4 linked regions of the Homo sapiens genome follow. The protein of the gene in region 4 interacts with the protein of the main gene of each other region in a pairwise test. Each region holds a gene or a part of one and is shown on either strand. Other genes may lie near its edges.

Evidence for each region. The genes of interacting proteins can lie anywhere in the genome.
Region 1: the proteins of NELFCD (region 4) and HDAC11 interact in a two-hybrid assay, tested with the Homo sapiens proteins (one large-scale study listed by BioGRID and IntAct).
Region 2: the proteins of NELFCD (region 4) and ENDOV interact in a two-hybrid assay, tested with the Homo sapiens proteins (one large-scale study listed by IntAct).
Region 3: the proteins of NELFCD (region 4) and FRMD5 interact in a two-hybrid assay, tested with the Homo sapiens proteins (one large-scale study listed by IntAct).

What each region holds. Positions count from the first base shown.
Region 1 is NC_000003.12:13,504,306-13,506,916, forward strand, and holds the end of HDAC11 (histone deacetylase 11), read left to right. Parts: intron 1-162; coding exon 163-378; 3' UTR 379-2,111; downstream 2,112-2,611. UniProt on the Homo sapiens protein: Responsible for the deacetylation of lysine residues on the N-terminal part of the core histones (H2A, H2B, H3 and H4).
Region 2 is NC_000017.11:80,418,167-80,421,666, reverse strand, and holds part of ENDOV (endonuclease V), read right to left. Parts: intron 2,250-3,500; exon of another isoform or gene 2,174-2,249; intron 2,121-2,173; exon of another isoform or gene 1,394-2,120; intron 1-1,393.
Region 3 is NC_000015.10:44,188,772-44,192,271, forward strand, and holds part of FRMD5 (FERM domain-containing protein 5), read right to left. Parts: intron 1-3,500. UniProt on the Homo sapiens protein: May be involved in regulation of cell migration. May regulate cell-matrix interactions via its interaction with ITGB5 and modifying ITGB5 cytoplasmic tail interactions such as with FERMT2 and TLN1.
Region 4 is NC_000020.11:58,991,256-58,993,434, forward strand, and holds part of NELFCD (negative elongation factor C/D), read left to right. Parts: intron 1-56; coding exon 57-191; intron 192-625; coding exon 626-765; intron 766-1,742; coding exon 1,743-1,857; intron 1,858-2,179. UniProt on the Homo sapiens protein: Essential component of the NELF complex, a complex that negatively regulates the elongation of transcription by RNA polymerase II.

The sequences.
Region 1 (2,611 bases), on a different chromosome or scaffold from region 4:
TGCTCTATGGACTCAGCAGCAGCAGGAAAGGTGGGCGGCCTCATGTCAGGGAGGAGATGGACTGAAGCAACAGCAGTTTGGAGCAGGGCTAGCCCTGCAGCAGGACTTCCTGACACCATGGGGGTCTGGCCTGCCTGAGTCACCCTCCTCTTCCCCTAACAGGGCATCGTGAAGCGGGATGAGCTGGTGTTCCGGATGGTCCGTGGCCGCCGGGTGCCCATCCTTATGGTGACCTCAGGCGGGTACCAGAAGCGCACAGCCCGCATCATTGCTGACTCCATACTTAATCTGTTTGGCCTGGGGCTCATTGGGCCTGAGTCACCCAGCGTCTCCGCACAGAACTCAGACACACCGCTGCTTCCCCCTGCAGTGCCCTGACCCTTGCTGCCCTGCCTGTCACGTGGCCCTGCCTATCCGCCCCTTAGTGCTTTTTGTTTTCTAACCTCATGGGGTGGTGGAGGCAGCCTTCAGTGAGCATGGAGGGGCAGGGCCATCCCTGGCTGGGGCCTGGAGCTGGCCCTTCCTCTACTTTTCCCTGCTGGAAGCCAGAAGGGCTTGAGGCCTCTATGGGTGGGGGCAGAAGGCAGAGCCTGTGTCCCAGGGGGACCCACACGAAGTCACCAGCCCATAGGTCCAGGGAGGCAGGCAGTTAACTGAGAATTGGAGAGGACAGGCTAGGTCCCAGGCACAGCGAGGGCCCTGGGCTTGGGGTGTTCTGGTTTTGAGAACGGCAGACCCAGGTCGGAGTGAGGAAGCTTCCACCTCCATCCTGACTAGGCCTGCATCCTAACTGGGCCTCCCTCCCTCCCCTTGGTCATGGGATTTGCTGCCCTCTTTGCCCCAGAGCTGAAGAGCTATAGGCACTGGTGTGGATGGCCCAGGAGGTGCTGGAGCTAGGTCTCCAGGTGGGCCTGGTTCCCAGGCAGCAGGTGGGAACCCTGGGCCTGGATGTGAGGGGCGGTCAGGAAGGGGTACAGGTGGGTTCCCTCATCTGGAGTTCCCCCTCAATAAAGCAAGGTCTGGACCTGCCTTCCCAGGCCCTTCTGTGGGGGTGAAGGTGGGGAAGGCCTGCGGCGCCCAGATCACTGCCTTAGCAGTAGTCTTGCCTGTTCAGTGCAAGGGGCAGGTTTTGGGGGGAGGAATTCTTAGCGCAAGGACGGGCCTCAGCCCTGTCGCCTCCAGGGGGCCGCTGACCCAGGTGGGGAGAGGGCAGAAGAAGGGTGGGGGACGTGGGCAGGCCAGGCTCACAGGTGGAAATCAGGGATGCAGGGTGGTGCCCAAGCCAGGTCCTGCAGGAACCCAGGCCCAGGGAGGGACCCAGACACTGGTGAGGCGGGGCAGGGGTTCCTGGAGAGAGGGCAGCGAGGATCTCTATCCTGGCCTGGGGATTATGAACATAGGTAGCCGGGGCAGGGCCCTGGGTGGGACTGTGGCCTCCACTGGCCTCACCAAAGTGCCTGGGCCCCAATCCTTCTCCATGCCCAGGGGCCCCAGGTGGGCCAGACCTCTGGCCTGTTCCTCAGCCCTACTCATGGGGACATTCAGGGACCTCCAGGAAGTGGGCGGGGGAGCATCCACCCCTGCTAGCCGGCAGCTGTGGCCCTGATCAAATCAGGGGCTGGGGAGGGAAAGTGGGTCCATTGAGGTGGCCCTGCTCCATCAGCCCCCTACGGGACTTGTGTTCATTACAGTGAGGGGGTGCTCCCACTGTCTCCCGGCCTCCCTAATGCTCCCTCTGCTGCAGGGAGAAGGGTTCCAAGATCACAAAATGTCAACAATGCTGGCCTCCTGGACCAGACCCCGAGGCTCTAACAATGCACTCTGAGATCCCTACCCTTGCCGTTGGTCTCTGTCGCTGACTCGAGGCACCTAACATCCATTCACACCCAACACAGGCCAGCGACTTCTGGGGCTCAGCCACAGACATGGTTTGTCACTGTTGAGCTTCTGTTCCTAGAGAATCCTAGAGGCTTGATTGGCCCAGGCTGCTGTGTGTGCTGGAGGCAAAGAATCCCTACCTCCTAGGGGTGAAAGGAAATGAAAATGGAAAGTTCTTGTAGCGCAAGGCCTGACATGGGTAGCTGCTCAATAAATGCTAGTGTGTTATTTCATCTTCTGAGTCCTGTGGAGTTGGTAATGATTCCCATTTCACAGATGAGGAAACTGAGGCTTGGCAGGGGTGAGAAATTTGCCCCAGGCCACACCTCCCAGCAGATCTCAACAGTGGTAGAGCCAGGCTTGAATCCAGCTCTGCCAGATCCCAAAGTAAAAGTTCTCAGCTGCCTCACACTTGGCAGGGGGGTGGGGTGGGGGTGGGGGGTTACTCTGGACAGAGAAGGGTCTAGGATCCCAGGGTGATAAGGTCACTGGGCTGGGGTCTGGGACAGCCTGGGAATGGGTGGGCAGGCACAGCTGGGCTGTGATGGTGGCTCTGCTGCACAGTGGGAGGGGGCCCTGGCAGGGCAGTGGGTGGATGGGGTGTCTTCCAGGCCTGGGGTGCTTTTGGAGCGCTTATGGGGATGGGCTGCCCCGAGATGAGGCTGGGCTGGGGTGGGGTATCCAGGCAGGGGGAAAGGCAGAGCCTTGGCCGGGCAGAGTGACCAGAGCATCC
Region 2 (3,500 bases), on a different chromosome or scaffold from region 4:
GAACTAGAAGATGTACCCTGCAAATTGGTGGTGGGCAGGTACCCCCGGGACCTGGTCCATAGGAGCAGACCCCCCCAGGACCTGGTCCGTAGCAGCAGCTCCCCCGGGACCTGGTCTGTAGCAACAGCACCCCCACCCCGCCCCCACCGGGACCTGGTCCATAGCAGCAGCCCCCTGGGACCCGGTCCATATGAGAACCCCCACCCCGGACCCGGTCCACTGGAGGAGCCCCAACTCCCAGACCTGATGTGTATAGTAGGAGCCCCTGGGACCTGGTCCATAGGAGGATTCCCTGGTATCTGGTCTGTATGAGGAGCCCCCAGGACCTGGTCCATAGGAGGATTCCCCGGGATCTGGTCTGTATGAGGATTCCCCGGGACCCGGTCCATAGGAAGATTCCCCGGGATCTAGTTCATAGGATGAGCCCCTGAAGCCTAGACTGTAGAAGGATTCCCTGGAATCTAGTCCATAGGAGGAGCCTCCGGGACCTGGTCCATAGGAGGATTCCCTGGGATCAGGTCCGCGGGAGCCCCCCAGGACCTGGTCTTCATCAGAAGCAAGGCTAAGGCTGCTGGCTGCATCACCTCTGCCTGCCCCTTGCTTTCCTGGTGTCTCCTCCTTTGTGTATTGAAGCCGATGCCCCACCCCACCCCTCCATGGGTTGTTGGAGGCTTAAAGAAGACACAGTGTTGGCCAGGCGTGGTGGCTCACGCCTGTAATCCCAGCACTTTGGGAGGCCGAGGCGGACGATCACCTGAGGTTGGGAGTTCAAGACCAGCCTGACCAACATGGAGAAACCCCGTGTTTACTAAAAATACAAAATTATCTGGGCGTGGTGGCGCATGCCTGTAATCCCAGCTACTCGGGAGGCTGAGGCAGGAGAACTGCTTGAACCCAGGAGGCAGAGGCTGCAGTTTAGAGCACAACATGGCAGGCCTGAGTCTCCTAACCTTGTGTTTTCCTTAGTCACACTGCCCTTAATGTGAAGACGTTTCCCACTATGTCCACATTCTGCAGACCTGTCTACCTTCCTGCAGTTTTGTTACTGAATCCCCCAAATCTCTTGGTGACAGCTTTCAAATCACAACTTCCACTCCTCACTTGTGGCTGGATCAATAATTAAACACACCAAAGCAGACGGAGTGCTCTGTATTAGCACAGAGGGTTGGGGATCATTCTCACAACATCTTCATCAATGACTCAATGGGGAAACTGATCAAATCTGCCCATGACCCAAAGTGGGGAGGGTCCATTCTGATAACAGAATTTGGGTTCACAGAGAAGCCAGCAGGCTGGATCACTGACATCCCCACAGAGTAAAAGTCACTTTGCACAGTGACATGTGGAATTCAAGTGTGGCCTGAGTTCCCACAGGAGGGGCGTGGCTGCTTACATCTGAATCTCTCCCATAATGTTATCATTCAGGTGACATTATGGGATGACTATGATGTGTAATCAGTATGATAATGACACTGTGGCTGTGGAGGAGAATGTCATTCTCAGGACAGGCCTGCTGATGTCTTCTGAGCTGTCACAGTCGCTGGGATGTACGGTACACACGCACACAAAGAGCGCATGTGCGCGAGAGAGAATATTCCAGAGCAGCAACAGCTGAACCTAAGTAGAAGGAATACAGGTGTCCAACGTATCCTTTTCCAATTTGGGGGGATGTATGTACATTTTCAAATTAAAAATCTGGGAAAAGAAAAATCACTGTATGATTAGCGTAGGGGGCAGGTCTGGATGACCAGCAATCTCAACATAAGCCAGTGACCTGGTGCCCCTCAAAAGCTACCAGTGTTTCCAGCTACACCGACTGAAATGGCGTGGGTGACAGTTAGGTCTAGGGACTTGGGTAGACCACATCCAAGTTCCTGCATTTGATTCTGAGTGCAGACGGAAAGATGGATTGTGTGAACGGAGGGCATGACCAGAGGGCCACTGACCAGTGAAGAAGCTGGACGTCATCGCAGCCTCTTGGGACAGTGTGGTCAAGGAGCAGGCAGCTGTTTCCAGCAGCAGAAGGGCTGACAAGCAGAAGGCAGGGAAGATCCGTTCTGTTTTGCTACCTGAAGGCAGAACTGATCGATGGGAGTCACAGACAAGTAGGAGTCAGCTCCCTGCGGAGCAGAACACACTAGCCATTGCTCAGCGTCCAGCACACAACAGGCTCCACCAGGCCTGTGGAGCAGCACACACCAGCCATCGCTCAGCATCTGGCATGGAATGGGCTCCGCCAGAGGCCTGCGGAGCAGCACACACCAGCCATGGCTCAGCATCTGGCACAGAACGGGCTCCGCCATCGTTTGTCAGGGATGCTAAGGACAGTGTTCTTCACGGTGGGAAAAGCAGGCCAGTGGTTCTCCAGCCCAGCTCTGCTTCAGAATCACAGGAAAGCTTATTTTAAAAAGCAGATTCTTATGCTATACTCTGGGAGAGTTTTTCCCCCAGTAAGTGGGGTAGGGCTCTGGAATCTGTTTTTTTTTTTTTTTTTTTGACAGAGTCCTGCTCTGTTGCTCAGGCTGGAGTGCACTGACGCGATCTCGGCTCACTGCAAGCTCCGCCTCCCAGGTTCACGCCATTCTCCTGCCTCAGCCTCCCGAGTAGCTGGGACTACAGGTGCCCGCCACCATGCCCGGCTGATTTTTTTTGTATTTTTAGTAGACACAGGGTTTCACCGTGTTAGCCAGGATGGTCTCGATCGCCTGACCTCGTGATCCAGCCGCCTCAGCCTCCCAAAGTGCTGGGATTACAGGCATGAACCACTGCGCCCGGCCTGTTTTTTTTCCTAACAGGTTTACTGAGATACAATTAACATACCATAAAGTTCACTTGTTTAAAACATATAATGCGATGGTTTTGGTATTTACAGAGTTGTGCAATATCACTACAATCTAACTTTAGAACATTTTCCTTAACCCCTAAATAAACCTCATCCTCATCAGCAGTCACTTCCCATCCATCCCACCCCAACTCCAAGGCCCAAGGATCCACTTTCTGTCTCTGTGGATGTGCCTACGGAATCTGTTTCTCAACACACTTCTGGGTGATTCTGCTCCTGCAGGTCCACGGTCGGGCATTCAGGAACCAGTGGACCAGACTGTTCCAAGATCCTTTCCTAGTCTAAGCTTTCATAGCCGGAACAATGAATACCGACGAAGTAGCAGGTGCTTTGCTTGGTGCTGGGGTTGTAAAAGAAATATGGTACACCCTACTCTTGAGAACCTACAGTCAGTGGGAAAAATGGAATCATAAATGACTAACTTTAATACAATGTGAGAAGCGCTCTAACAGCATGTGCATTCAAAAGAGGCCCAGGATGCAGATGAGGTGATTAATTTGCAGCCAGGAGAAGTTGGAGGGGGAAGGGAATGCTGTGTTAACTGCTTTCCATGCATTTCATGTACTGCTCATCACAATTCTGTGAGCTGGATATTAATACCACTATCATCCTCAAGTCAGAAAAAAGGAGACAGAGGCCTAGAGGGCAAAGTGGGGAG
Region 3 (3,500 bases), on a different chromosome or scaffold from region 4:
TGGTCCTGATTTTGAATGGTTTTTCTTGGTGGGCAGTGGTTGTCTGAGGCTTTGAACTGATCTTTAACACACAGGAATGAGTTCTAGGCACTTCTGGAGTGGTCCAGAGCACCTCTAAATACGAAGCAGCAGATGAGGTCATGGTAATTCGGGGAGTCAGAAGTGGAAGGGTGGGGGGTTGAAAGCTATAATCACTGTCAAAGGGGTGTTTTCTGTAGACAAGTGAATGGAGCTATTGTACACAAACTCAGTGGTTGCCAAGCATGTGGCCCAATTATTTTGCCTTCATGAGCATGGCACGGAAGGATCTCTTTAGAGAACTTGATTCACACAAGTTTGTGTTTAGTCTAACGGTAGCAGGCAAAAGCCTGGGGAATTTGAACCTAAGAGTCTTTACAAGTTCCTGCCTCCCAAATCTAGGATATGATACTAGAAAGTTGGTAAGACCACAAAAGTAAAACACAATCTTTAGAAATAATACAACAATTACAACTGTTGAAAGACCAATATAGGGGCCTATCTTGGTCAAAATGTTGACAACAATAATGAAGATCACATGTTGACCTTGGGAGGCAAAAGGTCCATAATTTAAATTTCTCTGAGACAGTTTTAGCCTGATGGAGAAACTGGAGGTTGGGAGTATGTGAACTTAGACCCTCTGTTCCCCCTGGTTTATCTTTGGCTCTACCTGTATTTACAGTGCTTGTAAAAGTCAAGACTTTTTTTTTTTTTTTTGGGACAGAGTCTTGCTCTGCCACCCAGGCTGGAGTGCAATGGTGCTATCTCGGCTCACTGCAAGCTCCACCTCCCGGGTTCAAGCAATTCTCCTGCCTCAGCCTCCCGAGCAGCTGGGATTACAGGCATGTAACAGCACACACCTGGCTAATTTTTGTATTTTTAGTAGAGACGGGGGTTTTACCATGTTGACCAGGCTGGTCTCAAACTCCTGATCTCAAGTGATCCTCCCACCTCAGCCTACCAAATTGCCAGGATTACAGGCATGAGCCACCATGTCTAGCCAAAAGTCCAAAGAGTTTTATTGGTCACCAGGGTCTAGGGTCTTAAAAAGGAATGGAAGACCTGCTTCATTTGCTAGGATAGACATATGAATTGGCGATTTGCTGTCTTAGGGGAAACACCATTCTCCCTGCAACATGGGAATGGAGATGCTTTAGTACCCTTCAAATTTCCCAGCTGCATAAGAAAACCACTGAGGTGGTTGGCCTAAGCCCCAAAAAGTCAAGACCAGAAAACAGGGGCAACAACCATCACCTGGCCTCCAGGAAAGCAGCACTGTCCTTCCTGGGCACTACAGAAGTGAGAAACAGAAGCTATAAGGTTGCTGCCAATCCTCCATGATATTCACTTCTTTAGTACAAGCCTTAACTAGACACATTTGAGAGACGAGCAACTCGCAGAGTCAGACAGGATGTTATAGATGAGGCTATCAAAGGTGAATTCAACTTAAAATAGATATAACTAGAAACAGGATGGGAAGCATGGTCCACTTCCTCTTGGAGCAAGAGGTGAGAAAATGAGGCTGTGAGGAGGTCTGTCTCCTCTTTTATGGGGTACTAAGGGGAAAAGTGTGAAGGAAACTTCTGTAGCTATGGTGATCCCTACATCCAAAATCCTAATTCTGGCAGAACTCTAACACTCCATGAAGTACTGCATCACACAGTATTCATTTGATCTAAGCCCTCTAAACTTGCAGAGATGGAGGCAGGGGGACCTGAAAGTTTTGAAATCCTAAGAGACAAACCAAAAAGTCATAGGAGCTATACCAACTGGCACTCCACTAATTCAACAAAGGATAATTGCAGAAATTGACTTCATAAATACCTCAAAGACCTCATAAATACCACACTAACATACTGTACTTCTCACCCGGGAGAGGGGTCACACAGCAAAACGGTTTGTAATGGAATGGATTAAAACTATAAAGAGTTATACAGGTGTTAGAACTGTTTATTGTTTTCAGGAATAAGAAAATTTGAAGTGAAGTTAACATAGCAATCATGTAGCACAAACAAATTAGAACAAATATTTATTGAATTAAAACTATGTAAGGCATCGAACTAGATGTGATAATTCTTAGGGTTTATGATTTATAGCTTTCTCTTAATCTATTATAAACTCTAGAGTGCCTGGCAAGCACAGGGCTCAATACATTTGTTCTCTCCCTCCCTCTCTCACCCTAGCTACCACAGCTACTAAGTGGTTGAGCCACAATCAAATCCAAATATTGGTTATACTATGGAAATGCCCCTGCACACACATTCTATTTATGGTAGTATCTTATTTAACTGCACAATTTAACCTGGCTGCTTAATCCATTATTTTAATATGTCTCTCAGTAAAATCAAATTCATTTCTAGAGTAGCTCACCTTTCAGTAATCACAAAAAACTGATTAACATTTCTGACTTGAAAATAGGTATTTTTTCAACACATATTTCTATTAGAAATGTTGCAATATATATTCTCATAATTTATAAACTATTATAAGCTGAAAGATAGTTCAAAATCTATTCCTGGCCGGGTGCAGTGGCTCATGCCTGTAATCCCAGCACTTTGGGAGGCGAGGCGGGTGGATCACGAGGTCAAGAGATAGAGACCATCCTGGCCAACATGGTGAAACCTCGTCTCTACTAAAAATACAAAAATTGGCCAGGCATGGTGGTGGGTGCCTGTAATACCAGCTACTCGGGAGGTTGAGGCAGGAGAATCGCTTGAACCCAGGAGGCAGAGGTTGCAGTGAGCTTAGATTGCGCCATTGCACTTCAGCCTGGGCAACAGAGCGAGACTCCACCTCAAAAATAATAATAATAATAATAAAATAATCTATTCCTTATAAGCAGGGCATGGTGGTGCACTTCTGTAGTCCCAACTACTTGGGAGGCTGAGGCGAGAGAATCACTTCAGCCCAGGAATTCAAGTCCAGCCTAGGCAACATAGCAAGATCCCGTTTCTTAAAAACATAAAAATTCCTTAGGATATTACATGCCTAAGCACGTAAATGACTCCTTCAGTATACTGAGTTCAAAGATATTAGTTATCTTTTCATTTTTTAATTTTCCCTATTTTCTCCAAATAACAAAGTAAGCTGATAAATGTGGTAAATATATATATATATATATATATATATATATTATATATATATATATATATGTATCTCCATAAATGAAACAGATGAATGAAAAACAGATGAGTAGACCAGATCTGCATTTACGAGGAAATGACCTTCAAAACTGGCAGGGAGCTGTTAACAATGTTCTTCACAGGGGAGCAATTATACTACAACCCTCCTATGTATACTTTCATTTCTCATGGTCTACAAATACATTTGCATATCAGAAAGAGTGAAAGAATAGTCTGGTAACTGTGGCAACCTTCATTGAAAAGATATAAGGCATTTTCATTACCTTAATAATTACATCCTAAATGCCAGATCGGAATAAATGCTGCATTATGAAAGGATAGACAAATACTTTGACAGAA
Region 4 (2,179 bases):
GGGTGAGCAGTGCCCTCACGCCTGCCATCCCGAACTGGGCATATGCTTCTCCTCAGATCCGCGTTCCAGCCTTCCTGGACCTGTTCATGCAGTCACTCTTTAAACCAGGGGCTCGGATCAACCAGGACCACAAGCACAAATACATCCACATCTTGGCGTACGCAGCAAGCGTGGTTGAGACCTGGAAGAAGGTACCATCGGTTCTGGGAATTTGTGGATTTTTTAGGAGACAAATATCCTCCTCTGCTTTGATATTATTTTGGAATTTTGGCTGCAAGAAATCTTGACCCTCCCTAGTATCAGGCATGTGTTTTCTTGTGTTTCTGCGTAGAGAAAGCACTAAACGTCTCCAGAAAATGTGCGTAATGTCTCCAATGCTCTGCAAACCGTAAATTGAAATGTGACTAAAGAAATGAAACTGATTTCCGTAAGACATGGACAAACACTAGTCTCATTGCTTTTCAGTTTCTGTACACTGTGTGACTGTGAAGTTTGACAGCTGAATTGACTCCCAACTTAAGTAGAAATAGGGAAAGTGCTTTGCAAGAAGTGGCCGACACCAGAACACCCCGACAGCAGGGATATCTGCCCTGTCAGGCTCACCAGCTTGTGTGTGTGTTTTCAGAACAAGCGAGTGAGCATCAATAAAGATGAGCTGAAGTCAACGTCAAAAGCTGTCGAAACCGTTCACAATTTGTGTTGCAACGAGAACAAAGGGGCCTCTGAACTAGTGGCAGAATTGAGCACACTTTATCAGTGTATTAGGTAAGCAAAACGAAACTCAGTTCTTAAATCAGTCCTTTGGGGAGGAGGTCGTTTGAGTTTTCATATTGAAAGCTCAAATAACAAAAGCTTCAGCGATACTTGTTCATTTTATTTATTTTTTCATTTTTAAACAGTATGTAGGGAACTTTAAACAGCTTTAGCAGCATGAGTAATTTTCAGATGTTTATTTGCCAGAAGTCTGTTGAGTACAAATTAGGCTAAGTAAAAGATAGCCAGAGTTAACAAAAATTGATTTGAAGGGTCTATTTATAGGTAAAGTTATGCCCACAAAGTATTGCTTACATAGAAATGATTTGTGATTATGCCAATCATATAAATAGACGTGTCCTAGAAATAGTGTGTCCTCTTAGGCATGTCTTTCCCCTAATAATTTATACTAGGGATGAAGAAAGAGTTTGCTAAATAAAGGTAAACTTCAACCCAGTCCACCAAACTCACTGAGTATCACTCATTAATGATCTTTTCCTTTCGATAAGTGGTTTAAAGTGAGCAGAGAATTGAACTCTGCTTCTTGCACCGCATGTTGAGTGGCTGCTGATCCATTCACACTATTTACTAATAAGCAGAGCTTACGCCAGGCACAGTGGCTCTGGCCTGGAATCCCAGCAATCTGGGAGGCCAAGGCAAGAAAATAGTTTGAGCCCAGGAGTTTGAGACCAGTCTGAGCAACATGGTGGACCCTCTCTCTACAAAAAATTAGCTAGACATGGTGGCACTCACCTGTAGTCCCAGGTACTCGGGAGGCTGCAGTGAGCCATGATTGTGTCATTGTACTCCAGCCTGGAAGACAGAGTGAGACCCTGTCTCAAAAAAAAAAAAAAAAAAGGGTTGGGGGGCGTATTGAAGGGTGAATGATGGAGTCATTTGAGTTTGTTTTTAACTTTCCTTTAATGCTTTTCTAGCATATTTTGTGTTTTAAATTGTTTTTTAAAGGAAGCATTCTGCCTTAACTGTAGGTTTCCAGTGGTAGCAATGGGTGTGCTGAAGTGGGTGGATTGGACTGTATCAGAACCAAGGTACTTTCAGCTGCAGACTGACCATACCCCTGTCCACCTGGCGTTGCTGGATGAGGTAAGAGGGCGGAGAGCTGTTCACAGCCTACACAGTGTCTGTCTCATGCTGTTTACGTTGGCATTAACATTGCATCTATTCAGTGAGTTTAGAGGATACTCTTCTCAAAAATAGTTATTTCTGTCCTGAGGATTTTCCTCTTAAGGACCTAGCTTCATTGACTGCAGAAATTTCTTAACCTCAGTCAAGTGTTACTGGAAGCTGATGGCCCTGGCTTAGGTGTCAGGACCTTCTTCCACAGTGATAAGCTCTTTGGTGGCTGTGACAGTGCCCAGTTTCTCTGTGTGCTGAGCGTGACCACACTGCTCAGCGAAGCTCCCTC